Linked DNA regions of Homo sapiens. The protein of the gene in region 2 purifies or fractionates together with the protein of the main gene of each other region. This does not show direct contact. Each region holds a gene or a part of one and is shown on either strand. Other genes may lie near its edges.

Region 1 (4,023 bases), on a different chromosome or scaffold from region 2:
TGTAATGAAATCTGAGAGGAGGATGGGAAGACTTGCATTTTACTAATAAAAAAGTTCAACAGAGAGAAACTAAAGAAATAAGTTTTAAAAGATTTCTAACTACATGATGACTTTTTGTCTTTTTTGTTTTGTTTTTTTTGAGATGGAGTTTCACTCTTGTTGCACAGGCTGGAGTGCAATGGCACAATCGCGGCTTACCGCAAACTCCACCTCCCGGGTTCAAGTGATTCTCCTGCCTCAGCCTCCCAAGTAGCTGGGATTACAGGCAGGCGCCACCACGCCCAGCTAATTTTCTATTTTTAGTACAGACGGGTTTTCTCCATGTTGGTCAGGCTGGTCTCAAACTCCCGACCTCAGGTGATCCGCCTGCCTTGGCCTCCCAAAGTGCTGGGATTACAGGTGTGAGGCATGGCGCCCGGCCTACATGATGTTTCTTATGAATGCAAACAGAAATTATTGCCTTAATTGCTAGTATGCATTTACTGTTTGCCATAATTCTTAGAGATTTTCACTTTTTATTCATTCTAATTAATGACATTATAAAATAAAATTGTTACTGTGAGCTTTTTAAAACAATAATATAAGAAAAACACTCCTTGAGAGGATCATGATATGGCCGGGAGGAAAAACCAGTATGGTGACTGTCTATCAAGACATGAGACTGGCAGCTGGAGAGCCGAGGAGGAGGCGGGCTGCATTCCTAATGAACGTACACGGTTACCGCGCAGGGAGCAAGACTCCAGCTCCCCAGAGGGTGGCCAAGCACACGACCCCTTCCCTAGGACCACACATCAGCCTCAACTGGACACCATACTGCTAGACAACACACATGGACGAATGAAATCCCCTTGTCCCTAGGAACAAGCCGGTCACAGGCAGAGTGGTTTCTCACGCATTAGGAACTAGGGGATGGTGCCTGGCTGGCCCTCCTGGTAATTAATTAATTTCCTATCTGGTTTCTGACCCAACTGTTTGCTCCATCTCTCTCCCCAGTTCCCTTCGGCAATCCTAACTTCTACAGATTGCTTGCTACATTCTGGTTACTGCAGTTATTAGTGTAATCGGCAAGCATCTATACAACTCTGCCTAAAAATTTAGCCAGGCATGGTCGTGTATACCTGTAGTCCCAGCTACTCAGGAGGCTGAGGTGGGGGAACTGCTTGAGCCCAGGAGCTCAAGGTTGCAGTGAGCCATGATCACACCACTGCACCCCAGCCTGGGAGACAGAGAGAGACCCTGTCTCATACATAAATCAATCATAAAGTAAATAATAAAAATCTACTCATGAGCAGCTAAGGATAGGCTCAGATCCACAATTTTATACTCTCAATATTGGAAATTTAAAAAACAATCACAAAAATAACCAATAGGAAATAAGTTTGATTGTTTTGTGGATCCAAAGATAAAAAGCCTCTAGAGCCCTACCTCAAAACCATACAGAAAAATTAACTCAAAAATGAACTAAAATCCTAAAAGGGTGTAAATTTTTGTGACTTTGAATTTGGCAATAGTTTCTTAGATATGACACCAAAACACTAGAGGAAAAAAATAAATTGTACAAAATTAAAAATTTTGTGCTTCATCAAGAAGGTGACAAGACGATCCTGAGAGAAAAGTATTTTGAACTGTAGATCCAGAATATATAAAGAACTCTTGGCCAGGTGAGGTGGCTCACGCCTGTAATCCCAGCACTTTCGGAGGCCGAGGCGGGCGGATTACTAGGTCAAGAGATCGAGACCATCCTGGCCAACATGGTGAAACCCCGTCTCTACGAAAAATACAAAAATTAACAGGGCGTGGTGACGCATGCCTGTAGTCCCAGCTACTTGGGAGGCTGAAGCAGGAGAACTGCTTGAACCCGGGAGACAGAGGCTGTAGTGAGCCGAGATTGCGCCACTATACTGCAGCCTGGCGACAGAGTGAGACTCCATCTCAAAAAAAAAAAAAAAAAAAAAGGAACTCTTATAATTCAATAAAAAGGACGAATAACCCCATTTAAAAATGATTGAAGGATCTGAAGAGACATTTCTTCAGAGGAGATATACAAATGGCCAACAAGCTCAGGAAAAGTTTGTTCAATGTCATTAACCACCAAGGAAATGCAAATCAAAACTGCAATGAGAACCCACCTCATACCCACTAGGATGACTAAAATAAAACAGCCAATGACAAATCTCAGCAACAGTGTTGAAAAACTGGAAGCCTCATAGACTGCTGACAGGGATGTTAAATGGAAAAGGTCTGGCAGTTCCTCAGAAGGTTAAACTCAGGTACTGTATGACTCAGCAACTCCACTCCTAGGTCTATGCCCAAGAGAAATAAAGTATAAGCACACAAAAACTTGTGCGTGAGTGTTCAGAACAGCACTATTCATAGCAGCCAAAAAACAGAAACACTCCAAATGTCCATCAACTGATAGATACATAACATGTGGTCTACCTAACACAAAGGCATTTTATTCTGCCACAAAGAGGATCCAGCAGTGACACCTGCTACAGCGTGGAGGGACCTCAAATCCATTGCGCAAAGGAAAACCACGCACAAAAGACCACATATTATACGATTCAATTTCTAGGAAATGTCTGGAGTTCACAAATCTACAGAGACAAAAGATACATTGCTGGTTGCCCAGGGCTGGGCGGATGGTGGTGGTGAGGATAGGGAGGTCATGGCTAAAAGGTACAAGGGCTTCTTTTTGAGGTGATAAAATTATTCTGAAATTGACTGTGGTGACAGTTGTACAACTGCATGAAGATACTAAAAACCAGTGGAGAGTACACACTACACAGGCGTATTGTATGGTATGTGAATTATATCTCGATAAAGCTGTTACAATACGGTTCAAAAGAAGATAATGACTCTGTCCATCCTCAACATTAAACCTTCCTTGCAAACGTCAGTGTACAAATCAAGATTGCACAAACGTGAAGTAATCTTGCTGTCTAGACAGAGTGAAAAATTCCTCTACACAATAACTTTTTTTTTCTTTTTCAGACAGTCTTGCTCTGTTGCCTAGGTTGGAGTGCAACAGCGCGATCTCGGCTCACTGCAACCTCTGTCTCCCAGGTTCAAGTGATTTTCCTGCCTCAGCTTCCCGAGTAGCTGGGATTACAGGCATGCGCCATCACACCCAGCTAATTTTTTGTATTTTTAGTAGAGATGGGGTTTCATTATGTTGGTCCAGGCTGATCTCCAACTCCTGGCCTCAAGTGATTTGCCAGCCTCAGCCTCTCAAAGTGCTGGGATTACAGGCACGAACCACCGCGCCTAAAAGCCCCCCACCAGCCTTTTTTTTCTTTTTTTTTTCTGAGACAGGGTCTTGCACTGTGGCCCAGGCTAGAGTGCAGAGGCACAATCTCAGCTCACTGCAACCTCTGTGTCCCAGGTTCAGGTGATCCTCCCACCTCAGCCTCCCGAGTAGCTAGGACTACAGGAATGCACCACCACACCAAGCTGATTTTTCTCTCTCTTTTTTTTTTTGTTTTTTTTTGTTTGAGACGAAGTCTCACTCTGTTGCCCAGGCTGGAGTGCAATGGTGTGATCTCAGCTCACCGCAACCTCTGCCTCCTGGGTTCAAGCGATTCTCCTGCCTCACCCTCCTGAGTAGCTGGGACTACAGGCACCTGTCACTACACCCAGCTAATTTTTCTTTTTCTTTTTTCTTTTGAGATGGAGTCTCAGTCTTTTGCCCAGGCTGGAGTGCAATAGTGTGATCTCGGCTCACTGCAACCTCCACTTCGCAGGTTCAAGCGATTCTGGTGCCTCAGCCTCCTGAGTGGCTGGGACTACAGGCATATACCACCACGCCCGGCTAATTTTTTGTATTTTTTTTTTTAGTAGAGACGGTGTTTCACTGTGTTAGCCAGGATGGTGTCAATCTCCTGACCTCGTGATCTGCCCACCTCAGCCTCCCAAAGTGCTGGGATTACAGGTGTGAGCCACCATACCCGGCCAATTTTTCTATTTTTAACAGAGATGGGGTTTCCCCATGTTGCCTAGGCTGATCTCGAAACTCCTGGGCTC
Region 2 (4,023 bases):
GAACTCAGATATGGAACACAATTCGTAACAGGGGAGAGAAAGCAACAGCTCCTTAAGCCAAGAGAAAGCATTTCACAGTGCTAAATCCCAAAGTCTCTCGCATATTCCCTTCCTTAGAGGACCTGAAATTGAAAGGGTACCACACTGACCTGCTAGAATGTCCACTGTCACTCTCACGTGAACTATACTTGAAGGGCCAGATGGGACTATAAAATAATGGTAAGCTCCTTCAGACTTTACCTGAAATGTTGATAACTGGTGAAAATAAATCAGCTCAGGGGGTTCACAACACTATTCTGTCTACCTGCATGTGTGTATGTTTGAAATGTTAGCAAAAAAATAAACTTTATCAGGGCTGGGTGCAGTGCACTTTGGGAGGCCGAGGTGGGAGGATCACCTGAGGTCAGGAGTTTGAGACCAGCCTGGCCAACATGGTGAAACCCTGTCTCTACTAAAAATACAAACATTAGCCGGGCATGGAGCCGTGCACCTGTAATCCCAGCTACTTGGGAGGCTGAGGCAGGAGAATCGCTTGAACCCAGGAGGCAGAGGTTGCAGTGAGCTGAGATGGCGCCATTGCACTCTAGCCTGGGGGACAAGAGTGAGACTTCATCTTAAAAAAGATAAATAAATAAAAATAAATAAATAAATAAATAAACTTTATCAGGCAGGGTGCGGTGGCTCACGCCTGTAATTCCAGGACTTTGGGAGGCCGAGACAGGTGGATCACGAGGTCAGGAGTTCGAGACCAGCCTGACCAACACGGTGAAACCCTGTCTCTACTAAAAATACAAAAATTAGCTGGGCATGGTGGTGCACGCCTGTAATCCCAGCTACTCAGGAGGCTGAGGCAAGAGAATCGCTTGAACCCAGGAGGCAGAGGTTGCAGTGAGCTGAGATTGTGCCATTGCACTCCAGCCTGGGCGACAGAGCAAGACTCTGTCTCAAAAAAATAAAAATAAATAAATAAATAAACTTGGCTGGGTGAGGTGGCTCACACCTGTAATTCCAGCACTTTGGGAGGCCGAGGAGGGCAGATCATGAGGTTAAGAGATCGAGACCATCCTGGCCAACATGGTGAAACCCCATCTCTACTAAAAAGACAATAAATAAATAAATAAATAAATAAATAAATAAATAAATAAATAATAAACTTTATCTGCTGGGTGCGGTGGCTCATGCCTGTAATCCCGGCACTTTGTGAGGCCGGCGGGTGGATCACCTGAGGTCAGGAGTTCAAGATCAGCTTGGCCAACATGGTGAAACCCCATCTCTACTAAAAATACAAAAATTAGCCAGGCGTGGTGGTGGGCGCCTGTAATCCCAGCTACTTGGGAGGCTGAGGCAGGAAAATCACTTAAACCTGGGAGGCAGGCCGGGTGCAGTGGCTCACGCCTGTAATCCCAGCACTTTGGGTGGCTGAGGTGGGCAGATCATGAGGTCAGGAGATCGAGACCACCCTGGCTAACATGGTGAAACCCCGTCTCTACTAAAAATACAAAAAATTAGCCGGACGTGGTGGCGGGCACCTGTAGTCCCAGCTACTTGGAGGCTGAGGCAGGAGAATGGTGTGAACCTGGGAGGCGGAGCTGGCAGTGAGCTGAGATGGCGCCACTGCACTCCGGCCTGGGCGACAGAGCGAGATTCCGTCTCAAAAAAATTTAAAAAATAAAAAAATTTTAAAAAACCTCACTCTGAAAGGATAAATAAAATGTGGTATATCCATACAATGGAATATGATTCAGCCTTCAAAAAGAAGGAAATTCTGATGCATGCTACAACATGGATGAATCTTAAGGACATCATGCTAAGTGAAATAAGCCACACGCAAAAGGACAAACACCGTGCGATTCCACTGATAGGCAGTCTCCAGAGTAGTCAACTTCATAGAGACAGAAAGTGGAATGGTCGTTGCCAGGAGCTGGCGAGTGGGGAAGGGCAGAATTTGTGTTTAATGGATGGTGGTGGTGGTTATCCTACAATGTGAATGAATTTAATGCCGCTTAATGAAATGCAGATTTTAAAATGACTGAAATGGTACATTTTATGTATTTTGCCACAGTTACATACATGTGGCCAGGCGCGGTGGCTCACGTCTATAATCCCAGCACTTTGGGAGGCCGAGGCGGGCAGATCAACCGAGGTCAGGAGTTCAAGACCATCCTGGCCAACATGGTGAAACCCAGTCTCTACAAAAACACAAAAATTAGCTAGGCATGATGGTGTGCGCCTGTAATCCCAGCTACTCAGGAGGCTGAGGCGGGAGAATCGCTTGAACCTGGGAGATGGAGGTTGCAGTGAGCCAAGATCACGCCATTGCATTCTACCCTGGGCGACAGAGTGAGACTCCATCTCAAAAAAAAAAAAAAAAAATACATGAATCAACTTATGAAAAAAAGATCTTACCCAGCTCGTTCTCCACCATGTTCTTTATGTGGCAGGTGGCAGGTGTGTGTTGAATGAATGACTGAGGATGGAGCTTACCAGCCACACATCATCCCCACCCCATCCAAGGGCAGATGTGACTGGAGTGACTTAATGCTGCTGCCTGCAGGACTGTCTTGCCTCCTCTCTCTCAGCCTCCTGTGGGTGACTCCGGAGCCCGTTTGAGTCCCCACAGCCATGCATCTGCCCATTACAGTCCCAATCCAGATGAGTATCAACCCACCTCCCTTCCTGAACTGAGCCATGCTCAGTCCTGAATGACATTAGCTATTTCCAAAATACTAAATTCAAAGCATGGAGATGTGACTCTGCTGTGATTCTCAGGGACCAATCCACAGGACCTACGGGCCATTCCCAATGTGTGGAGATTCAGACAGTACCCCTGGAACAAAGGGGCTGCTCCCAGGGAGATGCTGCTCCCAAGGAGATGGTACACACTGCCTGCAGATGCTCAGCACTGGCCCAGGCTCACCCATGCCGCCTGCCTCACTCCTGTGGCCCCTCAGAGTGCAGAACAGTGTCTAATCGCCGAGAAACCCCAGGGCAGGGGAGGGGGAGCCTGGTCAGTGAGGGTCTGGGTCTAGATGGAGTTTCTCTTCCAATCTAGAGCACAAGCTTCTCCAAAGTAGTCTTTTTCCACGGCCAGAGGCCAGAGCCCCACGTGATGAGGTGCCAGGCCTCATGCTCCATGGCACCCTGTGCCCATGCAGCTCCCCAGAACAGCCACCACTGTCCCTGAGCCACTGATCTCCCCACAAGGCCCAGGAACACAGGGACCATTCTCACTTCCCTGACCCAGAGACCGGGAGCCTTGGCAAAGAACTTACAAAGATAGACTGCTCCTTCAACCGCCTCTTGGCCTCTTCCGCTTCTAAAGTCTGCTGTTTCCTCCTGGAACGATAAGCAGCCAGCACCCGTCAGGGTGCGCCCGGGGGCCCCTGGAGCGCTCCGGGCGGGCAGGCTCACCTGTGCTCCTCGATCTGCTGCTCCCGCTCCCGGTAGCGCCGCTCGCGCTCCTCTTGCTCCTGCCGCTCCTGCTCCATCCGCTCCTGCTCGAACCTGAGCCTCTCATCCAGGGCCTTCTTCCGCTCCTCCTCCTTCCGCAGCTCTTCTTCCTTCTGCAAGCCCCGGTGCGAACAAGGGTAGGCCCCGAGCCTAGGCGCCTGGACCCTGCCCCTCCAGCCCCTCCCTAACCCAGCGCTGGGGGCGGGGCACGTGGCATGGGCCATGCCACTGCAGTGAGGGACTCAGACCTGCCCCATGGGGTCCATGAGGGGTGGCTCAGCCAGGCCGGGCTCAGGGTTCCATACCTTGGCCTGCTCCCAGAACTGCTCTCGGTTAATCCGCTTCATTTCCACAGCTGCATCCGTCTTCTGGTAGGTGGTGCCCTGCAGTGTCGAAGGACCCAGCATAAGCAGGCTGAATGCCCCAGGAACCCCCGACACCTAAAGGGTGAGAGCTAAGAGGGACCGGGCAGGCCAGACTCGGGCACCAGGCCACGCAGGCAGAGCCCACGGGTGCCAAACACACACTAACCACGGGCTCTGCGTTCTCATCCTCTCGCAGCCGCAGTCGGTG
Region 3 (4,023 bases), on a different chromosome or scaffold from region 2:
GGGAGGCCGAGGCGGGCGGATCACTAGGTCAAGAAATCGAGACCATCCTGGCCAACATGGTGAAAACCTGTCTCTACTAAAAATACAAAAAAATGGTGGCGGGCGCCTGCAGTCTCAGCTACTCAGGAGGCTGAGGCAGAAGAATCGCTTGAACCCAGGAGGTGGAGGTTGCAGTGAGCCGAGATCACGCCACTGCACTCCGGCCTGGCGACAGAGCGAGACTCCATCTCCAAAAAAAAAAAAAAAAAAAAAAAAGAAAACACAATTCTTCACGAATGAAGAGACAAAGCTAGGCATGAGGGCTGCAGGGCGGGCAAGGCCCATCCCATCCTCCTTACTGGCCGCCCTGCTTCCTCCTGAAAGGAGTTTCATGGGTGGACCGGGTGACCTTCAAGAATCGTATGAAAGCCATGGACGGACCTCCAGGACGCTGGGTTTAAACAAGCAAGAAGCCAACAGCTTGGCTCCGGGGAATAATGGTCCCACTGTAACCTGTGCCTTCTCAGAGCCTTTGAAGGAATCCAGATCTGAGGGCCTAGGGCTTGGAGACAGGAGAGAGTGACCAGGAATCAGTGCCCTGGGGGCACAACAGGGGTCTGGAGGGAGCTCTGGCTGGCCCATATCCCCCCGGGGTGTGAGGAGACCAGGAATCTGAGGGACACCTCTGCTGTCACCACAAAGGCCTCATGTTTCATCTGATTCTACATGCTTGGTGAGGAGGACGTTTAAAACAAAACCAAACTGGAATCAGGTTCCCCTCATTGTTCTCTTCTGACCCTCCTTCAATTTCCTTGCTAGGAGCCCACACATCTGTGGCGCTGAATGTGACTGGAGGTGACAGGGCAGAGCTGCACGTGACAAGCCCATGGGGAGGTTTCCGCCTGGCTAAGTCCTCTTTCTAAAGGCTCTTCCTAATTTTTTTAAGTAAATACAATGGTGTGTCTGAATAGATCTGTGTTATCTTTTATCCCACAACCTCAAGGACCTCGAGGACTTGGAAAATATGTACTTTCACTTTCAAACACCACTGACTGAAGAAATAATAAAATGTTATTATCTGGTGAATTCTAGAGTTGATGACTGACAATTTAAGCTAATTTAGGGAAATAGCTTCCTGCCCATTCTTGTAGTACCTCACTTGCTCATTAAACTCAGATTTGAAAACATTTATTTTTAGGGGTGAAACATTTTCACCCAGGCAGCCCACTGTGACTTAAACAACCAAAAACAGCTCTCAGTTGGGTGTGGTGGCTCACACCTATAATCCCAGCACTTTGGGAGGCCAAGAAGGGAGGATAACTTGATAAGCCCAGGAGTTTGGGACCAGCCTGGGCAACATAGCAAGACCTCATCTCTACAAAAATAAAAATAAAAATCAGCCAGGTGTGGTAGCGTGCACCTGTGGTCCCAGCTACTTGGGAGGCTGAGGCGGGGGGATCAGTCGAGCCCAGGAGTTCAAGGCTGTAGTAAGCTATGATGACACCACTGCACTACAGCTGGGATCACAGAGACTCTGCCTCAAAAAACAAATAAATAAATAAATAAATAAAGCTCTCACAATTGTCTGATGAGTAAGAAAAGAGACTGGTCACAGTTCTGTCCTTTGAAGTACCTGACAAAGAGTCACAGTCCAAAGGCAGGGGGTTGGATCTAAGGGTCACATGTGCTTTCTGGAATTCCTAGGTCAGATCACAGCCGGGCCAGCTGAGTTGGAGAGCTGGGGGCCAACTCTGTGGCGGCTCTGGCTGTGGAAGGGGACAGGCTGCCTCTGGTAGGCTCCTGAAGAGACTGTGAGTGCAGCCTTGAGTGGAACACGGGCCATGTGAGGTGATGGAAGGTTTACTAGCCATGTGACCTTGGGCAAGGAGTCACTTTGTCACTTGGAATTCAGTTTCCTCATCTGTAAAATGGGGGGAAGTTCAAAATGACAGCTTCTCTTATGGACCCAATGCTTGAGACCTCCCTAAATTCATACGTTGAAACCCTACCCCTAATGTGATGGTCTTAGGAGGCGGGGGGGCGGGTGTTGAGAGGTAACTAGGATTAGGTGAGGGCGTGAGGATGAAATCTTTATGAATGGGATCCAGGTCTTTACAAGAGTCCTCAGAGAGCTCACCTCCTCTCCCCACCTGTGAAGACACAGGGAGAAGACTGTGGTCTATGAACCAGGAAGCAGGCCCTCACCAGACACCAAATCTGCCAGTGCCTTAATCTTGGACTTTCTAGCCTCCAGAACTGTGAGAAGTAAAGGTTTGTTGTTTAAGCCACCCAGTTTGTGGTATTTTGTTATAGCAGCCTGAGCTAAGACAGCTTCTAAGATGATACAGCTTTTTTTTTTTTTTTTTTTTTTTTTTGAGACAGAGTCTTGCTCTGTCGACCCGGCTGGAGTGCAGTGGCGTGATCTTGGCTCACTGCAACCTCCGCCTCCCGGGTTCAAGTAATTCTCCTGCCTCAGCCTCCTGAGTAGCTGGGATTACAGGCATGTATCACCGTGCCCGGCCAATTTTTGTATTTTTAGTAGAGATGGGGTTTCACCGTGTTGCCCAGGCTGGTCTCGAACTCCTGACCTCAAGTGATCCAGCCACCTCGGCCTCCCAAAGCATTGGGATTACAGGCATGTGCCACCACGCCCAGCCAATACAGATCTTAAATGGGCAACTCTGAGGAGGGGGGCTTCTCGGTCTGAGGGAGACTGGGGAAAGCCTGCTGAACCCCTACCCCTGGCCAGCAGAAAGCCCTGAGTGTGCTCATGGGACCGCCCTAAACCACGAAGCTCAGCCCAGCCTGTGGGGAATGCTCCACATTCTCAAGATACAAAATCATAAGCACCGCTCATGCAGTAAATTAAAATCTTACTGATATCATTATGGGGATTGTGTTACATTTATAGATCAATTTAGGAGAAACTGATACTTTTAAAATATCAAGGCTTTTTGCCACTTCCCAACAGAATGGCTATTTATTAAACAATTATTTTATAAACCTTGAAATCATTTTAAAGTTTGCTTCACATAGATCTTGTATATTTAAGTTTATTTCTATGTAGTTTATGGTTCTAGTTCATACTGTAAAGGATCTCTTCTTCAAATATATATTCCACATGACTTTTTTGTATATAGGTGACTGAGTTTTGTGTGATTTCATATTTTAATAGTTTATGTTTTCACATGCGTTTCTCAGATGTTCAAAATTCTTTTTTTTTTCTTTTTTTTGAGACAAGAGTCTCACTCTGTCATCCAAGCTGGAGTGTGGTGGTGCAATCTCAGCTCACTGCAGCCTCTGCCACCTCCCAGGCTCAAGCAATCCTCCCAACTGAGCCACCAGAGTAGCTGGGACTACAGGTAAACACCACCATAGCTGGCTAGTTTTTAAAATATTTTTTCTAGAGACAGGATTTCATCATGTTACCCAGGCTGGTCTCAAACTCCTAGGCTCAAGTGATCCGCCTGCCTTGGCCTTCCAAAATGTTGGGATTACAGGCAGGAGCCACCATGCTTGGCCAAGAGTCAATGTTATAGATAAATAAATGATAAATTTGCCTCCTCAAAAACAAAACAAAGCACAAGCACAGGGGTGCATTCACACACACACACACACCCTCTCTCCACACATGTACACTCAATCACACACACTCTGACACTACCACACTCATGCACATTTGCCCTCTCTCCACACATTTACATACTCACAATATCTCTCTCTCACACACACACACTCTCTATTTCCCACACACACACAAATGGATGCTGATGTGGTTGGCCAGAGCAGGGCCATGAAGCCAGCTGGCCTTCCTTTCACCAGGAGACAAGAGTGGATGCTCTAAGCAGGTCCCAGTTTTCTCTCCCAATTTCCTGAAACCCTGTCCAGCAAGAAAGGCTTCTAGGGAAGTGCTGAAGGTGGAGAAAATAGAATCTGGACTTTAAAACAGCCTTACCTCTGCGTCAAGGCAATCTTCAGCTTGTCATTCTCAGACTTCAGGTGTGTGTTGGCTGGACCGGCGTGAGAGGCCTTTTCATCGTCCGT
Region 4 (4,023 bases), on a different chromosome or scaffold from region 2:
CCTTGGCCTCTCAAAGTGCTGGGATTACAGGCGTGAGCCACTGCGCCCGGCCCACTTCCGTAGAGTTCAACACCCTGGCTTTACTTGCCTGTTAAACAAGAGCGTCATCACGGCCACCTCACTCACTGGGGGCCTGAAGTGTGAACTGAGACAAGACTTACCCAGGCTCAGCCATGTAAGACAATAGCAGTACAGCCAGAAATCGGACTCAAGAGTTTCACTCAACTCTTTCCTTCAAGCCACTTTATCATAGGATCCTTACAAAGGAACTTAAATAGTTTAAAATTCAGTGGTTCTAAAATACACACCACATGAAGGCCCAACACAATCCAGTAACCCCTTTTAGAATAACTGGCCTCATTGGAACAGAGCCAAGACAAATTTCCCAAGTGTTTTTGATGTAAGCCTATGATTTTTCTTTGAAGTCAAGGTTAATACAAGAAAAGTATCAAACTCCTAAAAAGAAAAATAATACAAGTACTGTTTTTACTTGGTATCTGTCACTGAAATAAAATGTTGGTTTCTTTGAGAGGCAATGATTTTTTTCCTGTCATAAGAAATTGTTGCTATGAGCCTCAGAACACTTATAAGACTATGATGGTCCATTATACACACTTGCACTGGTGGCTGTTTAAATATTGTGCATGGAAGTGGGAGATGGAATTTACTAATCAGGTAAAATATCCTCATCCACTTTGAATGTATGTTCACTAAGGGGTGGTGGGGTTTTCAGAACACTTAGGAGTTTTCTAGAAATTACAATACACACTTAGGGACCCATGGTAATAGGATAACAAATTTCTCTACACACAGCCCTGTCTTTGTCATTGAACTGTAAGCTGCTCACATCCAGAGAACTCACAGTTCTCTGCACAGAGTATGGGCTCAGTAAGATGAGTAAAACCAACCTAATTTTAATAAAAGCAACGTTCTCAGCTTATGGATCCACAATACAGAGTTGGAAATGCAAATGTAGTTAGAAACTGTGGTCATAGTCTTTAATCAAAGGAATCTGAGAACCTTCAGCTCTTTGCTCACCTAGATTTGTAAGATTTTAAATGCCAAGTTTTATCTGGGAAGAGAGGTGAGTAGGGCATCTCCAACCACGGTGAAGGACTCTATAAAAACATGTAAATACACTTTTATCTTGACAAAAATGTAGTAATTGGTTGATGGAGGCAGGGAGCAGGGCAAATGTGAAATAAATCAGAGGAAGAGCATTTACAACTGTACTGCCTACAAAGTAAATCATTATCAGTGCACAGCTGGTAAATGGACCCAGCTAGGAATTACTGGCAGATGACTGTTGTTTCTGGTGTGTGTGTGTATTGAAGGGTGAGGGTAATAGGATAACAAATCTCTCAATTATAGGGAAGTGTCTTTTAAAAACCATTAGGCTTTTTTTTTTTATTACTATTACTGGAAGGATGTATATATTAAGGATATACTTTTGGGTCAGGTAAGATTTCTTCACTTTTCTATATTTTCATTTTCCAGTAAAATTCTATTCCTTTTGAGGGTGGGGGGGAGACTCAAAGCGGAAGCAAAAACAAAGGGCAAACAAAACAAAACAAAATTTAAAGCCACACAAAAAAACCAAGCACACAAACCAAAAGCCCTACAACAACAAAAAGCCTCCATAGAGTGTCTAGGTTATGTACTCAAAAGCACTGTACACTTTCTTTTCTTTCCCCCTTTCTTATCATTTTCAATATGATGGCAAATATCCTTGTTACAGAGGCTATGGCCTATTAGAGAAATGCCAGCAAGATTTTCAAAACTTTTTTGTAGCTACCAAGTTCCAAGTTCTCTGCTCTGCTTTAGATCTGGGCCTGAACCTCAAGGACTTTGTACTCACAGAAAGACGACTGTTTATGCTTTGGGGAAAGAACCCTCTGGGTGACAGGTCTCTATCCCCAGCTCCCCACACAGCCGAGTCACCAGAAAGGAAGGAAACAGCACCTCATGTTCATTCCAGCCTTGCACATGAGATCTTCCTACCCAAAGGGCCCCTACCAATCCATCCGTGTCTTCCCTCCGATCACCCCCACCCCCATTCTTTCCCTTAGCTCTTGGCACTGTGTTTACAGAATGCTGTTGTCTAAATGCCACTCTTGTTTCCCCAGGGGCATTCTGTAGAACCTCAGACTCCTGGACATCAGAGAATATGTCCTACAGGAATACCAGCCAGCAGGGCTTCATACAGGGTGCCCCAGCAACGACTGGGCATGGAGACCAGTTTCTAGGTGCCAGTTTGTGATATAGTGGGAGGAATGGTAGGGCACACACAGCAGACCTGAGAGTGGCTGCCCCTTCCTGAGGAGGCCCTGTAAATCCAAAAAATAGGGTCTCAATTTTTTAGCTAGAAGGATCCCTAGGCATTGTCCAGATCAGCAATTCCCACAAGTGGCTGAGTGTCAGAATCAACTCAGAGATGAGCATTAAAAAAAAAACTTTCAGCTGGGCGCTGTGGCTCACGCCTGTAATCCCAGCACTTTGGGAGGCCGAGGCGGGCAATCATGAGGTCAGGAGTTCGAGACCAGCCTGACCAACATGGTGAAACCCCGTCTCTACAAAAAACACAAAAATTAGCCAGGCATGGTGGCACATGCCTGTAATCCCAGCTACTCAGGAGGCTGAGGCAGGAGAATTGCTTGAACCCGGGAGGCAGAGACTGCAGTGAGCCGAGATCATGCCACTGCACTCCAGCCTGGGCGACAGAGCAAGACTCTTGTCTCAAAAACAAAAAAAAAAAAAAAAAAATCAAACTTCCAGGCCGTGTCCCTAGAGATTCTGATTCAGGAGGTCAAAGGGGGAGGGCAGGAATCTGTACTATAAATAAACAATCCCCTTTGCCACCACCCAAAGAAGCTGGCTATTCTTCTAGCTCTTGACTAGAAACAGGCGGCAGGAGGGAACTCTGACCCTGGGCACAGAAGTATGTGGAGGCCATACAGCCATCAGTGTGAGACAGGATTAAGATCCAAGTCACTAGGCTCCCAGCATGCCGGCTCTCCACTATGTCACTTCTCCTGGCTTCCCGGAACATCACGGAAACCTTGGAACTGGCAGTTCTCACTCCTGTGTCTTTATCTCTCCTGAGATCAGATTGAGATGTTCTCCGGCCCCCACCCCAACTCCCCACAAAAGGCCTCAGGCACAGATCCTAACCAGGACTGGGAGAACAGTTGCTGCAATGCAAATCATCTGCTAAAGTGATTATCACAATCTTTTTGAAATGAGGCAGGATATAAAATTGAAAACTTCATAAAACAATGCTAATGGGTAATAGGAAGCTCACATAAGGACACGGAACATTTACTCCCTAGCCCAGAAGTCAATGCCTACTGCCCCAGAGGTTTCAGAGCAGGACAGGCAGAGGGGCTTTGAGGTTAAAGCCAGGACCTAGGAGTAGTATCTGAGGTACACCTATCTTTATGGGAAAACCCTGAACCCATGACAGGCTCTGCAGGCCCTATTATACTGGCCTAGTAGAATTTTTGTTTGGCTCGTTAGAATTCAAGATATGCTTAATTTTATAATTTAATCAGGGCCACTTTTTTCTCTTTCTTATTTTTACTTTTTATTCTGATTTATTATGCTCTATGTTCCAAAAGCCCCACACCTCTCACCTTTACTAGCTTTTATTTCTGGTATTTTTTTTTTTAAGTTTTGAGCTTATTTCAATATTTTCTAAGGTTCTTTTCATCATGGCACCTGGGGAGTCTTAAGGACCTGCTGTTGCCTCTGCCGGTACAAGCCCATAGACACATGACCATCTGTTATCTAAAAGCAGAGATATAAATAACAAGGCATTTGGGGAGGGTCAAGACCCCAGACACAAATTATTTGCAGGCATGTAAATCACTCTTAGTGTACTGAGTTAGCTTTCTTCTTCTTCTTCTTTTTTCTTTGAGATGGAGTCTAGCTCTGTCTCCCAGGCTGGAGTGCAGTGGCATGACCTCGGCTCACTGCAACCTCCACCTCCCGGGTTCAAGCGATTCTCCTGCCTCAGCCTCCCCA
Region 5 (4,023 bases), on a different chromosome or scaffold from region 2:
TGGGCGGGTTTCAAAGCCCATGCACTGGTCCCCCGCGTACAGATGCAGAAACTGAGGTTAGAAATGGCAGAGCTGGGACTGGGACCAGGTGTGAGGGCACCAAGGTCTGTAGTCTTTGCACATCCCGGCGCAGCCTCAGTGAGTAAGCAGAACTCAGGCTGGTCCACCCATGAAGCCAGGCAGCACCCGGGTTGTCTCACTGTGATGGGGACCAGGTGAGGGTGGGGTGGCTGGGGCAACCTGGCCCCACCCCAGGAACAAAGATCACCAAGGATAAGTCTTCCCTGTGACTGCCCCAGTGCCGCCCTGGCCCTCCAGGAGGATGACGAATGGTCCTGCAGGTCTCCCAGCCTTTTATGGCAGGCAGCCGTGAGCACACCCGGAACAGGCAGAGGCAGGGGCCAGGCCAGCTCCCAGCTGCCTCCTTCCTCTCCTCCCGCAATCCCTAGTGACTCAGAGTTTCAGGCTGATTAAACAGAAGCAGTCCCGCCACCTCAGACGGCAGACCCCAGACGACAGGCTCGGGCCGCCAGATGTGCACAGCTGCTTCCCAGGCATTCGAAAGTGTAGCTATTTCAGAAGGAGCCCCCCCAACCAGCCCCCTTTCCACACGCACCCCTTCCCCACACCCCTTCCCCAGCAACAGAGGGGAATGGCCACTGGCAGGAAACAGGGGCAATGGTGGGGGGCGGGGGGCGGGGTGCTCGGAGAAGGCAGACATGGGAAAACCCTACTAAAATCCTGAGCTCCTCGTGCTGTGCCGCCTTCCCCAACCATTTCCCTGCCCCAAGGGCAAGTCCCAAGAGAGAGCAGAGGAGAGTTTGGAAGAGAAGCTGCCCCCAGGAGAGAAGGAAGGTGCAAGTGTACAAGTAAACACGGTAGCAATAACCCACTGAATGCCGCTCTGCTGGGCTCAAGGCTGAACGACATCTGGACACTGCTGGACATCTGCAGCTCTGGTCAACAAACACACTGCATCCCAGCCAGAGGGCCCTCCTGCATAGACAGTGCCTAACCCTGGGGCTTCTCAGCTAAGGGAGAGGGAAGCGGGCCTCACTCCAAACAAGGGTCACCCCTTGCCGGCCTCACATCTAAAGGGACCACCACAGTCAAGCTGAGGAACTTCCTCAGCAGGCCCCTCACCACCCCCACCAGCCCAGGTCAACCGCCAGGAGACTGCTGAGGGCTAGACAGCTACCCAGGGAGAGACAGAAGCCACAGGATGCCATGGGGGGGTGGGGGGGTGGACGCCCAGTGGCCTTTATTATTATGTGAATCTCATTCTTCCCTCAAAGCAACCCTGGCAGATGTTTTATAATTTCCAATTTCTTTCTTTCTTTCTTTTTTTTGAGACAGAATCTCTCTCTGTCGCCCAAGTTGGAGTGCAGTGGCATGATCTTGGCTCACTGCAACCTCCACCTCCTGGGTTCCAGTGATTCTCCTGCCTCAACCTCTGAAGTAGCTGGGACTACAGGTGTGCACCACCACGCCTGGCTAATTTTTGTATTTTTAGTAAAGACCGGGTTTCCCCATGTTGGCCAGGCTGGTCTTGAACTCCTGACCTCAGGTGATCCGCCCACCTCAGCCTCCCAAAGTGCTGGGATTATAGGCTTGGGCCACTGTGCCTGGCTTTATTCCCAATTTCTAGGTGAAGAAGCTGTGCCTGCACACTGAGAAAATGGCAGCACTTGTGGTAGGAACAGCATCCAGTCCACTAGACAAGCCTGGGTGGAGCTGAGCCCTCTTGCCAAGGGGAGGAGGGGACCAAGGTGCTTGCAGATGGAAGCAGAGCACTCGGCTGCAAATCAAGTGTCCCAGGTTCGGGTGCGGTGGCTCACACCTGTAATCCCAGCACTTTGGGAGGCCAAGGCGGGCAGATCACGAGGTCAGGAGTTCAAGACCATCCTGGTCAACATGGTGAAATCCTGTCTCTACTAAAAAAGTACAAAAATTAGCCAGGCATGGTGGTGTGCACCTGTAATCCCAGCTACTCGGGAGGCTGGGGCGGGAGAATTGCTTAAACCAGGGAGGTGCATGTTGCAGTGAGCCGAGACTGCGCCACTGCACTTCAGCCTGGCTGACAACAGAGCAAGACCCTGTCTCAAAAAAAAAAAAAAAGAGTCCCAGGTTCTAGTCCCAGCTCTGCCACAAACTTGCTGGGTGTCCTTGTGTCCCTGGATCTCAAAGGAATGTTGATGTCTAAGATTCTAGAAATAAAAAAACAGGATTCCCACAACAGACAGAAGAAGGCTGGGGGTGGGCAACGTCAGAGTTGGGAACCAGTTCAGAGAGAGGACACACTCCAGAACTCCTCCTGAGGAAGGGGTCACGGGAGCTATTCCTGCAACAGGAAGGCTGGAAGTCAGACCTCAGGCAGGACTGTCAACCAGCCCCACCCTTCTCCTTACCTACTGCCCAGGAGAACAAAGGAACTTCTCTCACAAGAAACAAAAGTGCTGGTTTTACAGTTCCCAGGGTGGAGGGGGCCACACCCAGTTCAGTCTTGTCCCTCTCCACCCTGGACCTGGAGTCAGACCTCCTGCAATGCCCCTGGACAGAGCCAGGGTGGAAGCGAGAGAGACAGACGCAGGCCCTGCCCACTCATCCCAGCCAGAGACGGGCAGGGACAGAGACAGGGCGGGTTTCTGAGTTGAATGGGGGGCCTTTGTTTAGAGCGTGCTCTATTGTTAGCAGCACGGGAGGAAGAAGCCAGATCAGAGACTGTAGGGACAGCCCAAGGACAGGAAGAAGGAAGACGGGCCCTGGAGAGGGGGTGCAGAGGACCCTTCCCCATGGGACCCACACCAGGTAAGTGTGAGCAAGTAATAAGGCTAGACTGGGTGCACCCCTACCCTTCTTTCCTGCCTCCTCCTCTGCGCAGCCAACCCAGAGGGCTGGCACCGGGCACCCTAAATCCAAGACTGACCTGGCAGAGTGTGGCCCAGCCCTGACATTAAAAATAGCCCCACCAGAGCTACACCAGGCTCCTTCCCCAGCCGGCACCTGCCAAGGACAGTCAGCAATGGGCACATCTAGGCTGGGTTGCAGGGCACCAAGTGCCAAGACACCTGGAAATAAGGACAGGAGTGGGTTACCCCAGAGGCCGTGCTGGAAGCAGACTCAGAAGCATTGCATTTGGGAACAGAGGAGCAGGGCGGAGCAGGGCAGGGCTGGGTCCCCCAGAGGTTCCTTAGGCTAGAGGCCAGCACCCTGTGCAGACACAGGTCCCCAGGCTCAGACAGCGACAGGGTGAGCACAGGATTCTGAGTGAGGAGAGGGGCTCAATTTCCTTAAGCCTCATTTTCTCATCTGTAAAATGGAGATGATCAAGTGACTTCTTTTGTCACTGTGACTCTGGAAGCCCTCTGTCCACAGGAAAGGCATGCATTCTCATGCTAGAAGAACAAAGAGATGGCAGAGGAGGCGGAAGCCAGCTGGCGCAGTGGCTCGTGCCTATAATCCCAGCATTTTGGAAGGCGGAGGTGGGAGGGTCGTTTGAGCCCAGGAGTTCGAAACCAGCCTGGGCAACATAGTAAGACCCTGTCTCTACAAAAAATAAAAAGAAATTAGCCGGGCATGGTGGCATGCACCTGCAGTCCCAGCTACTCTGGAAGCTGAAGCATCACTTGAGCCCAGGTGATTGAGGCTGCAGTGAGCCAGGATCATGCCACTCCAGCCTAGGCAACAGAGCGAGACCGTGTCTCAAAACAAAAAGGTGAGGGGGCCAGGCGCGGTGGCTCACGCCTGTAATCCCAGCATATTGGGAGGCCAAGGTGGGTGGATCACAAGGTCAGGAGTTTGAGACCAGCCTGGCCAACATAGTGAAACCCCATCTCTACTAAAAATACAAAAAATTAGCCAGGCGTGGTGGTGGGCACCTGTAATCCCAGCTACTCGGGAGGCTGAGGCAGGCGAATCACTTGAACCTGGGAGGCGGAGGTTGCAGTGAGCCGAGATCGCACCAATTGCATTCCAGCCAGGGATACAGTGCGAGACTCTGTCTCAAAAAAAAAGAAAAATAAT
Region 6 (4,023 bases), on a different chromosome or scaffold from region 2:
ACAAAGGACATGTTGGTGCCTATCCCTGGAGACTAGGAAGGCCACTTTCCTGGGAATCCTGATCATGAACATCTTAAGAACCTCCTACACCAACAGAGCCACTGACCTCATCTCCCCTAACCTGCCCTGGTTAAATGCACAAGGCCAATTCCTTTCCAAGTCATAAAAGGCATTTACACAAAAATCCTAAAATGACTGCTTTGGAAGTTAATACAGGGGCCTGATGAGTACCACACACTCACCTCTTCTTTTTCCTCGAAGGTGTTCTAATCACTTGATATCGAAGAGTTAGGAGGTGTTATCACTTTGTTCTTCCTGGGAGCCCCTTCATTTTACAGGTCTATGCATTCTTGTCTAATGCTCCTCTTAAAACTAGTAATTACTTTACTAAACTGGATGACTTTTTCAACCCAAGTGTAAGTGCTATGACTATCTGTATCCACCATGCAAGTCAACCTGTACTTCTGATCATTTTTATTTTTTTGAGACAAGGTCTCACTCTGTCACCCAGGCTGGAGTGCAGCAGTGTGAACATGGTTCACTGTAGACTCAAACTCCTGGACTCAAACCATCCTCCCAACCTCAGCCTCTTGAATAGCTGAGTAGTACAGACGTGTGCCACCACACCCAGCTGATTTTTTGTATTTTTTGTAGAGATGAGGTTTCGCCACATTGCCGAGATTGGTCTTTGGCCCCCTGGGCTCAAGCAATCCTCCCACCTTGGCTTGGTAAAGTGCTGGGATTACAAGTGTAAGCCACTTTACGTTGACTGCCCAGCCTAGTCAACCTGTACTTTTGACTCACGACACCAATATTCTTTCAGGAGAGCCTTGGCCAACGGGAGATATTTAACCCACAAGAGCAATTTCCTAATATAACAGTTCACCCATCCTAATCATGATAGGATGTTTTAAATGATGGGTCTGTTTTAAAAATGCTTCTCAAAGATTTGCCTTACCAGCAAGTCATGATGAATGCTGACATTTTCTTTTGGTGGGGGTTAGCAAGAGACCCTAACTGAGAGGAATCGAGAGCCGGGTCTCACACTCATGAAGCAGCGCTCACCTTTCAGGATGGCTGTCGGCCACCAGGGCCCGGCTGGTCTTGGAGAGCTGATGCACGGTCTCTGCATAGTCCTCCACAGCTTGTTCTAAGATCTGGTGCTTCTTCAACATGGAGACAGCACTCTGCTCATCCTGCAAAGACAGGAGAACATCACAACCATAGCGGTCCCCTCTGGCCCTACCCCTTAAGGAGTGACAGACCAGCTGCTCAGCAGGGTAGGAGGAAGGATCAGTAGAAAGAAAAACTCCAGAGGTGCAGTACGGACAGTGGAACACAGAAGTGTTCCAAGAGCTTCCATATGGACTGGACCACAGAAGCCTGTGCAGAAGATAAACACAAGGAGAACGCAGAATGAGCAGGGCCCCTCTCAGAGAAAAGCTTGGGCAGACCAAGTGTGCCTGGTTCGCTGGAATTCCTCAAGGTCCCTCAAGTATGTAAATGGCAGCATTCCTGGAACCTTGCAATACTTTCAAATTGTCTCCAAGCCATCCTGTATTTTGTAAAGTTTAGGGAACCTATAAATAGACAGCAGGAAGGACTCTGGCATATTTCAAAGATGAAAGGATGAACCTGTTCTTAATGGCACACTAGGATTCAGATAAGAAAATGCTGCACCAAAGGGAAACCAGCAGCTGGATTTCAGACACCTTCATGCACATGGTGTCCCCTTAACACTCAAAGGCTACAAGGGAAGTTTTTATACAGACAGAGCCGCCAGCAGAAAGTGTGCCCAGGGTTTGAATCTGAGGCTCTCCTGGGACAGGGATGCTTCCCGCCTCCTCTCACCTTGGCCTTCTCCTCTGACATCATGTACAGCTCCTGCTCGCTCATCCAGGCTTCGGCCTCAGCAGCGTCAAAGTAGTACTGCTGGGCCCTGTGCGCCTCCTCCAGCCGCCTGTGGCGTTTCTCTGTCTCCTCAATGAGGAGACCCCACAGCTGCTTCAGGTCGGCAAGCCTCTGTCTGATGGCCTCAGCGCTGAGGCTGCTGCTGTCAGTGACGATGTTTTGGCTCCTCTCAAAGATGTCGTCAATGCGAGGCTGGTGCCCCTGGATTTCTTTCTGGAGGGTCTGGAGGGAGCGGAAAATACACACAAAGGCTTGCTAAATGGCAGCCGTCTGCTGCTTATGTCAAGCTGTTAGGGCCAGAAAGAAATAGCAAGGCTTCAAAGCTCTCTGCCATTCCCAGTCTCATAATTTAGAGCAATTATTTATCAGACAGAACTAGCTCGAGCAGAAAGGCTTACCTGATTTTTCTTTATTAACAGCTGCACAGTCTGGAGGTTGTGGCCATGATCCGTGGAAGTTGCCAAAGGCATCCTCTCTCCAACCCACAACTGGGAAGAATTTTAAATAAGTGGTCAGATCCACTCAGAGGAACAAATATACGACACAAACGAGCAGTGAGGGGCAGTGAGGGACAGCAAGGGTGAGCTTCAGAGAGTGCTCAGCCCCCTCGGGAGGGCTGTCTGGGGAAGCACGCCCTTGTTCTCCGAGACAGGGCTAGGGAGAGTCTTTCCAACTCTACCTCATCCTCAAGGTCAAACTCACTGTGAGTCCTCATTACTTTTAAAAAGTCTGTTTTAGGGCCATTAAAATCCTACAGTATCCCTAGATAACGTGAGAGGACCAATGGAGTTACATTTAGGGTGAAAAGGGAAAGAAACTTTAGACCATCCAGAGCGTGGACTTTGGCAGCTCAGCTTGCCAACGTGGCCCAAGGTGAGGATGACTGAGAAGTGAGAATGTGGGCTTTAGCACAGGCAAGGGGGCTCGTGGAAAAGCCATGTGTGCAGTAGGGGTCGACTCACGATCTCGTCCTCCACATCCCTGTTGAACTGATGGATCTCTTTGGAGGCCAGCAGGTTATGCTTCCTCTCGTTCAAGGGCTCCAGCAACTCCATGAACTTGGTCTGCACGGTGAGGCGCTTGCTGTCTACCTCGTCGGTGCTCTTCCCTTCCTGACTCAGGGCCTGGGCTTGGCTTTGGAGCTCTTCGATCTCCTTCTTCCGCACTTCCATCTGATTCTCCAGCATCTGAGGGCAGAGAAGCAGCCTCAGCGCTCAGCACAGACTATCTTTTGCAGTGACTGGCTCTAAGCAGAACTGCTGGGCCTGGGACTTGGCCACACCGCAAAGCCAGCCATGGGAGCCACTCAAACATTTTGCCACTGACTTGCTTTTCAACATCAATGGAACTGTTTTCAAGTAAATCTGAGGTAAATTCATTTGCCCTTAAAGCCCTCTACGGTGATATAATATAAACAGTTATTTTTATTACCTATAAAGTGCCTTGAACAACTCAGATAACTGTCACAAATCACGATGTTAAACAACAAAGTATGAGAATATTTCTTTCGTGTAAAATGCAGAATTGAATGAGATGAACATTTATTTAACTGTTAAACGGTGATAATACCCATTAACTAAGAAAATTATCAATCCCATACACAGACAGCCAACACCCAATACTCCTAATACTGTGTCTTTCTAGTTTGGACAAGTGTCTTTCTATTCTGGAAATGTTCTACGATGCTGTTAGAGCAAGTAATATTTTGGGTTAAAAATGCCTTCCCATGGAAGGTGGACTCCTGATAATGCAGTGGGTGAGAAAAGACTCTAAGGACTATGGCTGTAAAACAGAAATACACCCAAGTCCATGATGGCTTGTCCACTTGCCTGTTGCTTTTTCAGCAGGATATTGACACTGGTCAGGTCTTTGCCATAGTCATCAGACTGAATCTGACTCTCCAGGCCGTGCAGCCATTTGTCTAGATCTGCACAGCTCTGGGTGAAAAGTTCGGCCTTGTTTGCATCAAAGAGCCGCTGGGCCTTTGTCTGGGTAGTGGATTCAAGGACTTCCCACATTTTATGTAAACCAGTGAGTTTCTCCTTCACCACAGCTTCCGTCTCAGGCTTTTCTGAAATGAGCTGCATTCCTTCCTGGAAAACAAAACCAACA
Region 7 (4,023 bases), on a different chromosome or scaffold from region 2:
ATTTGGGTTTTGGCTGGAGCGGTTTGTTTGTTTTGGAGTAACAGGTGTGCAACTGCAACATGTATATGTCTTAAATTTTTGGCTGAGATAAATTAGATATAATGTTTCAGAATGTATGAAAGAGTATTTACTTAAAATTTTGAAATATTTAAAGTATGTGAGATCTTAAAAACCTAAAAATATCAATATGGTTTTTCTATTCAATGACTGTATCTATCCATCCAAGCCTAAGTTATTTGCCAACTTTCCATGCTCAGAACGTAATTGAAAGTCCAGAAAGAAACGAGAGGCCTCTGATGAACCTAAACACAGTTCACAAATCGTAGGTGCATTATTAATAAAAAGCCCTTTGGGTCTTCGCCCAGAACCGAATTGTTCTTTTCTATTGATAGCAGATACAGAGGATACAAATTCTCACACAGCTAATTGGGAGTTAATTTCTACTTACAAACAGAAAATCAGTTCTAAAAGCCAAATGAATGCATTCCACCTGAAATGGACATGTTGAACAATTCACCTTATAAAGAGGAACACCAGGATTTTTTAAAAAATCTTAAATGGACCTTAAGAAGGAAAGCTGAGCAAGCAAAGAGACAGAAAATGATTTTTAAAATAAGGCCGCCAGGAGACCTCAAGATCACAGCAGGGTGTGGATGCTGAGTATGGAGGTCAGAGCCCCATCACCCTCACTAGACCTGAGATGGGATTCTCACGGAGAGGGGTTCCATCCCAGGGAGGCTGCGGGGACATCAAAGTAACCAGGAGGTCTTGAAAGGTGTCCAAGAGGAGAAGACAGAAGAGCTCCTGATCAGTGCTGAGGAGTGAGTGGGCAGGAAAGAAAGAAGTGATCGCTTGAGGTCAAGGGGAGCTTTATTTAGAATGGATGAAACCTGAGGATGTTTTCAACACAAGGAGAAGCCAGGAGAAGAGCAGAGTGGAAAATAAGACAAACGGGAGAGAATGGTGTAGGTAGAGAGCGGGAAGGGGTGGCATGAAAAGCCTAGAGGAACAGAGGAGCCTTGAAAGACTCCTTCTCCTCCTCGGAAGCCCCCTTCGAGTCCCGCACCCCAGCTGGTTGCTTCCATCTCAGGCACGTGGCAAAGAATTAACCTAAGGCGGCTCAAAGCAGGTCCTCAGACAGGAATTAGCATCACCTGGATCCTGTTTGTTGAATCTCTAAGTCCAGTGCAGACCTACTGAATCAGACGCTGCAGTAACAAGACTGCAGGTGATTCCTATTAAAGTTTGGGCTGCACTGGCTAAAGCAGCGGTTATGAATACAGGCACTGAAGTCAACTAGATCTGGGTTCAAATCCAGCTGGATTTGGGCACATGGTATGTGCCCAAGCTTGGGCAAGCATTTCTAACCCTCAGTTTTTTCCTCAGTAGAATGAAGACAATTGCACTAATATTTCTTGGGGGCTACTGTAAAAATTAGAGTCCGGGCGTGGTGGCTCACACCTGTAATCCCAGTGCCTTGAGAGGCCTTAATGGGAGGATAGCTTGAGGCCAGGAGCTCAAGACCAGCCTGAGCAACATAGTGAGACCCCTGCCTCTAGAATTTTTTTTTTTAATTAGCTGGGCATAGTAGTGATTGCCTATAGTCCCAGCTACTCGGGAGGCTGAGGAAGGAGGAATGCTTGAGCCCAGGAGTTCGAGGCTGCAGTGAACCATGGTCATGCCATTGCATTCCAACCTGGGTGACCAGGCAAGACTGTCTCAAAAAATAAAAATAATTAAGTGATATATTGTAGAGGTAAAGAGTGTGGCATTAAGTCTGGCACACAGTAATAATGGATGGCATGTTATTATTGTTCATCCCTTCTACTCTGACTGGTAAAATAGCTCCATTACATCCCTGTCCGAGACACTCTGGGAAAGAGGCTGCCAATGAGAGGGAATACGCTATAGGCTTCTGCATCCCACAGGACCCACCCGGAGCTCTGCACAGGGAAAGTGCCCCAAAAATATGGACTGAAATGAATGTACCCAGGGCTGTGACATGGGCAGACCAATGATCCCAAAGCAAATATGGAAACTATTTCTTTTACTATATTTACACAAAAACCAGTTAGACATAGGTTATAAACTTGTTTGGGATTAAAGGATCAACTTTCAGAAGGGGACAAGCACATTAGGAGGAAAAAGAATGCCTCTTTCAAAACCTCCTACAATAGGGAGTGTCTCTAAGAGGGACAGAGATCTCTCTGAACCAATACTAAAGAGCCCCTGAGATCAACAGTGCAAACTGCTCCTGAGATGTGTGACCCAAGTTGAAGTTGACTGTATGGGTAAAACACTTAGGTCAAATTGCACCACTAGATGAGTTTCTTCATTTTAGGCAAAGTTCCAATAATGAAGTGACTGACTTCATGCGGCACACCTTAATTTCCCGGTTGGCAAAAGCACGTGTACAGAAACCCCATATACAGAAACCCCATCGGACTTGTTACCGCAACACGAACGTTTCTGCTTGCATTGTCATAGATGAAGGAAAAAAAAGGAGAACTTATAACACAGAACACCAGCTTCTACTGTGAGTAATATAGGATGAGGGCAAAAGTACTGGATGGATCACAGCCAAATTTCGATATGAAGAACCCACAAGTCGTTACAATTCAATCCGTTCAAACAACTCACATTTCTGGATTGCCCACTGGGCTAGACCCTGGGGGTGGTAAGAGAAGTGAGACCCAAGCACCTCACTGGGTACCCTGCTGCCAAGGAAAGGGCCACCAGGACCTAGTGACTGCAGCCCTAGAGTACAGGCTGGAGTCGAGGCCCAGGAGGCCAGAGGCATGTCAGAGGAAGCTTCTGGCACATCTCCTTTGATATTGCTTCCCTGGCAGGCAAGAGAAGACAACATTTTGGGGAGACTTGCCAACAGAACTCCAGGGGCATGAAAGACCCTGAAGGGGAGGCTACAGAGCCCAGGCTTTTGCATGTAAGCAGTGAGGAACGATGAGGGTTTGGCCCTGGCCGAGTGCAAGATGAGATCTTTGTTTAGGAAGGTCATTCTGTGGCTAGACCAGACGGAGGAGAAACCGAGGGCCAAGGGATCCATTAAGGGCAAAGCAGTAGCCCAGGTAAGAGATGGCGAGGCGAGGCCAGGCGCGGTGGCTCATGCCTGTAATCCCAGCACTTTGGGAGGCCGAGGTGGGCAGATCATGAGGTCAGGATTTCGAGACCAGCCTGACCAACATGGTGAAACCCCATCTTTACTAAATATACAAGAATTAGCCGGGCGTGGTGGCGGACACCTGTAATCCCAGCACTTTGGGAGGCCGAGGTGGGCAGATCATGAGGTCAGGATTTCGAGACCAGCCTGACCAACATGGTGAAACCCCATCTTTACTAAATATACAAGAATTAGCCGGGCGTGGTGGCGGACACCTGTAATCCCAGCTACTCAGGAGGCTGTGGCAGGAGAATCCCTTGAACCCGGGAGGCAGGGATTGCAGTGAGCCGAGATTGTGCCATTGCACTCCAGCTTGGCTGACAGAGTGAGACTCCATCTCAAAAAAATAAAAAATAAAAAAGATGGCGAGGCTTAAGAGGAGGTGGTGGGGCAGAGGCCTCGGGGACCTAAAGGGAGAGGAGTCAAGGGTGACCAGAAGATTCCTAGTTGAGTCACAAATCAATGAAGCCCAGAACTGCTGGAAAGTTCTAGACCTACGGATACTCCCAGTCACAGCAAGGCACCCTGAGATCAGCGCTTTAACATAAAATTGCAATGAGTGTCCTAAAATCCCAGGCAGCTGCAGATTCAGGAGATGATTCCAAGGCTGCCTTTGTACCCTAACAATCACAAGGCTCCTAGCAGCTTACTCTCCATAACGCTCCATGTAGCCCGAGAGCCCTGCATGCTGGAGCTCACCAGACATCCTTATAAAAATCCCAAGGGCCCTTTCCTTTGGATGCAATTCCTCAACTGTAGAATATTAAATAACTCGCCGGGTGTGGTGGCTCATGCCTGTAATCCCAGAACTTTGGGAGGCCGAGCGCTGGTAGATCACCTGAGGT

Evidence for each region.
Region 1: the proteins of DBN1 (region 2) and CTTN purify together in Homo sapiens (affinity purification with mass spectrometry; 2 studies listed by BioGRID and IntAct, with this or other methods). This does not show direct contact.
Region 3: the proteins of DBN1 (region 2) and HOMER2 purify together in Homo sapiens (co-immunoprecipitation; 3 studies listed by BioGRID and IntAct, with this or other methods). This does not show direct contact.
Region 4: the proteins of DBN1 (region 2) and TPM1 purify together in Homo sapiens (affinity purification with mass spectrometry; 2 studies listed by BioGRID, with this or other methods). This does not show direct contact.
Region 5: the proteins of DBN1 (region 2) and JUP purify together in Homo sapiens (affinity purification with mass spectrometry; 2 studies listed by BioGRID and IntAct, with this or other methods). This does not show direct contact.
Region 6: the proteins of DBN1 (region 2) and SPTBN1 purify together in Homo sapiens (affinity purification with mass spectrometry; 2 studies listed by BioGRID and IntAct, with this or other methods). This does not show direct contact.
Region 7: the proteins of DBN1 (region 2) and SVIL purify together in Homo sapiens (co-immunoprecipitation; 2 studies listed by BioGRID and IntAct, with this or other methods). This does not show direct contact.

Annotation. Positions count from the first base shown.
Region 1 is NC_000011.10:70,401,119-70,405,141, reverse strand, and holds part of CTTN (src substrate cortactin), read right to left. Parts: intron 1-4,023.
Region 2 is NC_000005.10:177,463,500-177,467,522, forward strand, and holds part of DBN1 (drebrin), read right to left. Parts: coding exon 3,982-4,023; intron 3,834-3,981; coding exon 3,756-3,833; intron 3,564-3,755; coding exon 3,412-3,563; intron 3,337-3,411; coding exon 3,273-3,336; intron 1-3,272. UniProt on the Homo sapiens protein: Actin cytoskeleton-organizing protein that plays a role in the formation of cell projections. Required for actin polymerization at immunological synapses (IS) and for the recruitment of the chemokine receptor CXCR4 to IS.
Region 3 is NC_000015.10:82,855,095-82,859,117, forward strand, and holds part of HOMER2 (homer protein homolog 2), read right to left. Parts: coding exon 3,935-4,023; intron 1-3,934. UniProt on the Homo sapiens protein: Postsynaptic density scaffolding protein. Binds and cross-links cytoplasmic regions of GRM1, GRM5, ITPR1, DNM3, RYR1, RYR2, SHANK1 and SHANK3.
Region 4 is NC_000015.10:63,052,414-63,056,436, reverse strand, and holds part of TPM1 (tropomyosin alpha-1 chain), read right to left. Parts: intron 1-4,023. UniProt on the Homo sapiens protein: Binds to actin filaments in muscle and non-muscle cells. Plays a central role, in association with the troponin complex, in the calcium dependent regulation of vertebrate striated muscle contraction.
Region 5 is NC_000017.11:41,773,003-41,777,025, forward strand, and holds part of JUP (junction plakoglobin), read right to left. Parts: intron 1-4,023. UniProt on the Homo sapiens protein: Common junctional plaque protein. The membrane-associated plaques are architectural elements in an important strategic position to influence the arrangement and function of both the cytoskeleton and the cells within the tissue.
Region 6 is NC_000002.12:54,644,304-54,648,326, reverse strand, and holds part of SPTBN1 (spectrin beta chain, non-erythrocytic 1), read right to left. Parts: intron 4,005-4,023; coding exon 3,741-4,004; intron 3,099-3,740; coding exon 2,874-3,098; intron 2,400-2,873; coding exon 2,310-2,399; intron 2,134-2,309; coding exon 1,852-2,133; intron 1,197-1,851; coding exon 1,066-1,196; intron 1-1,065. UniProt on the Homo sapiens protein: Fodrin, which seems to be involved in secretion, interacts with calmodulin in a calcium-dependent manner and is thus candidate for the calcium-dependent movement of the cytoskeleton at the membrane.
Region 7 is NC_000010.11:29,628,257-29,632,279, forward strand, and holds part of SVIL (supervillin), read right to left. Parts: intron 1-4,023.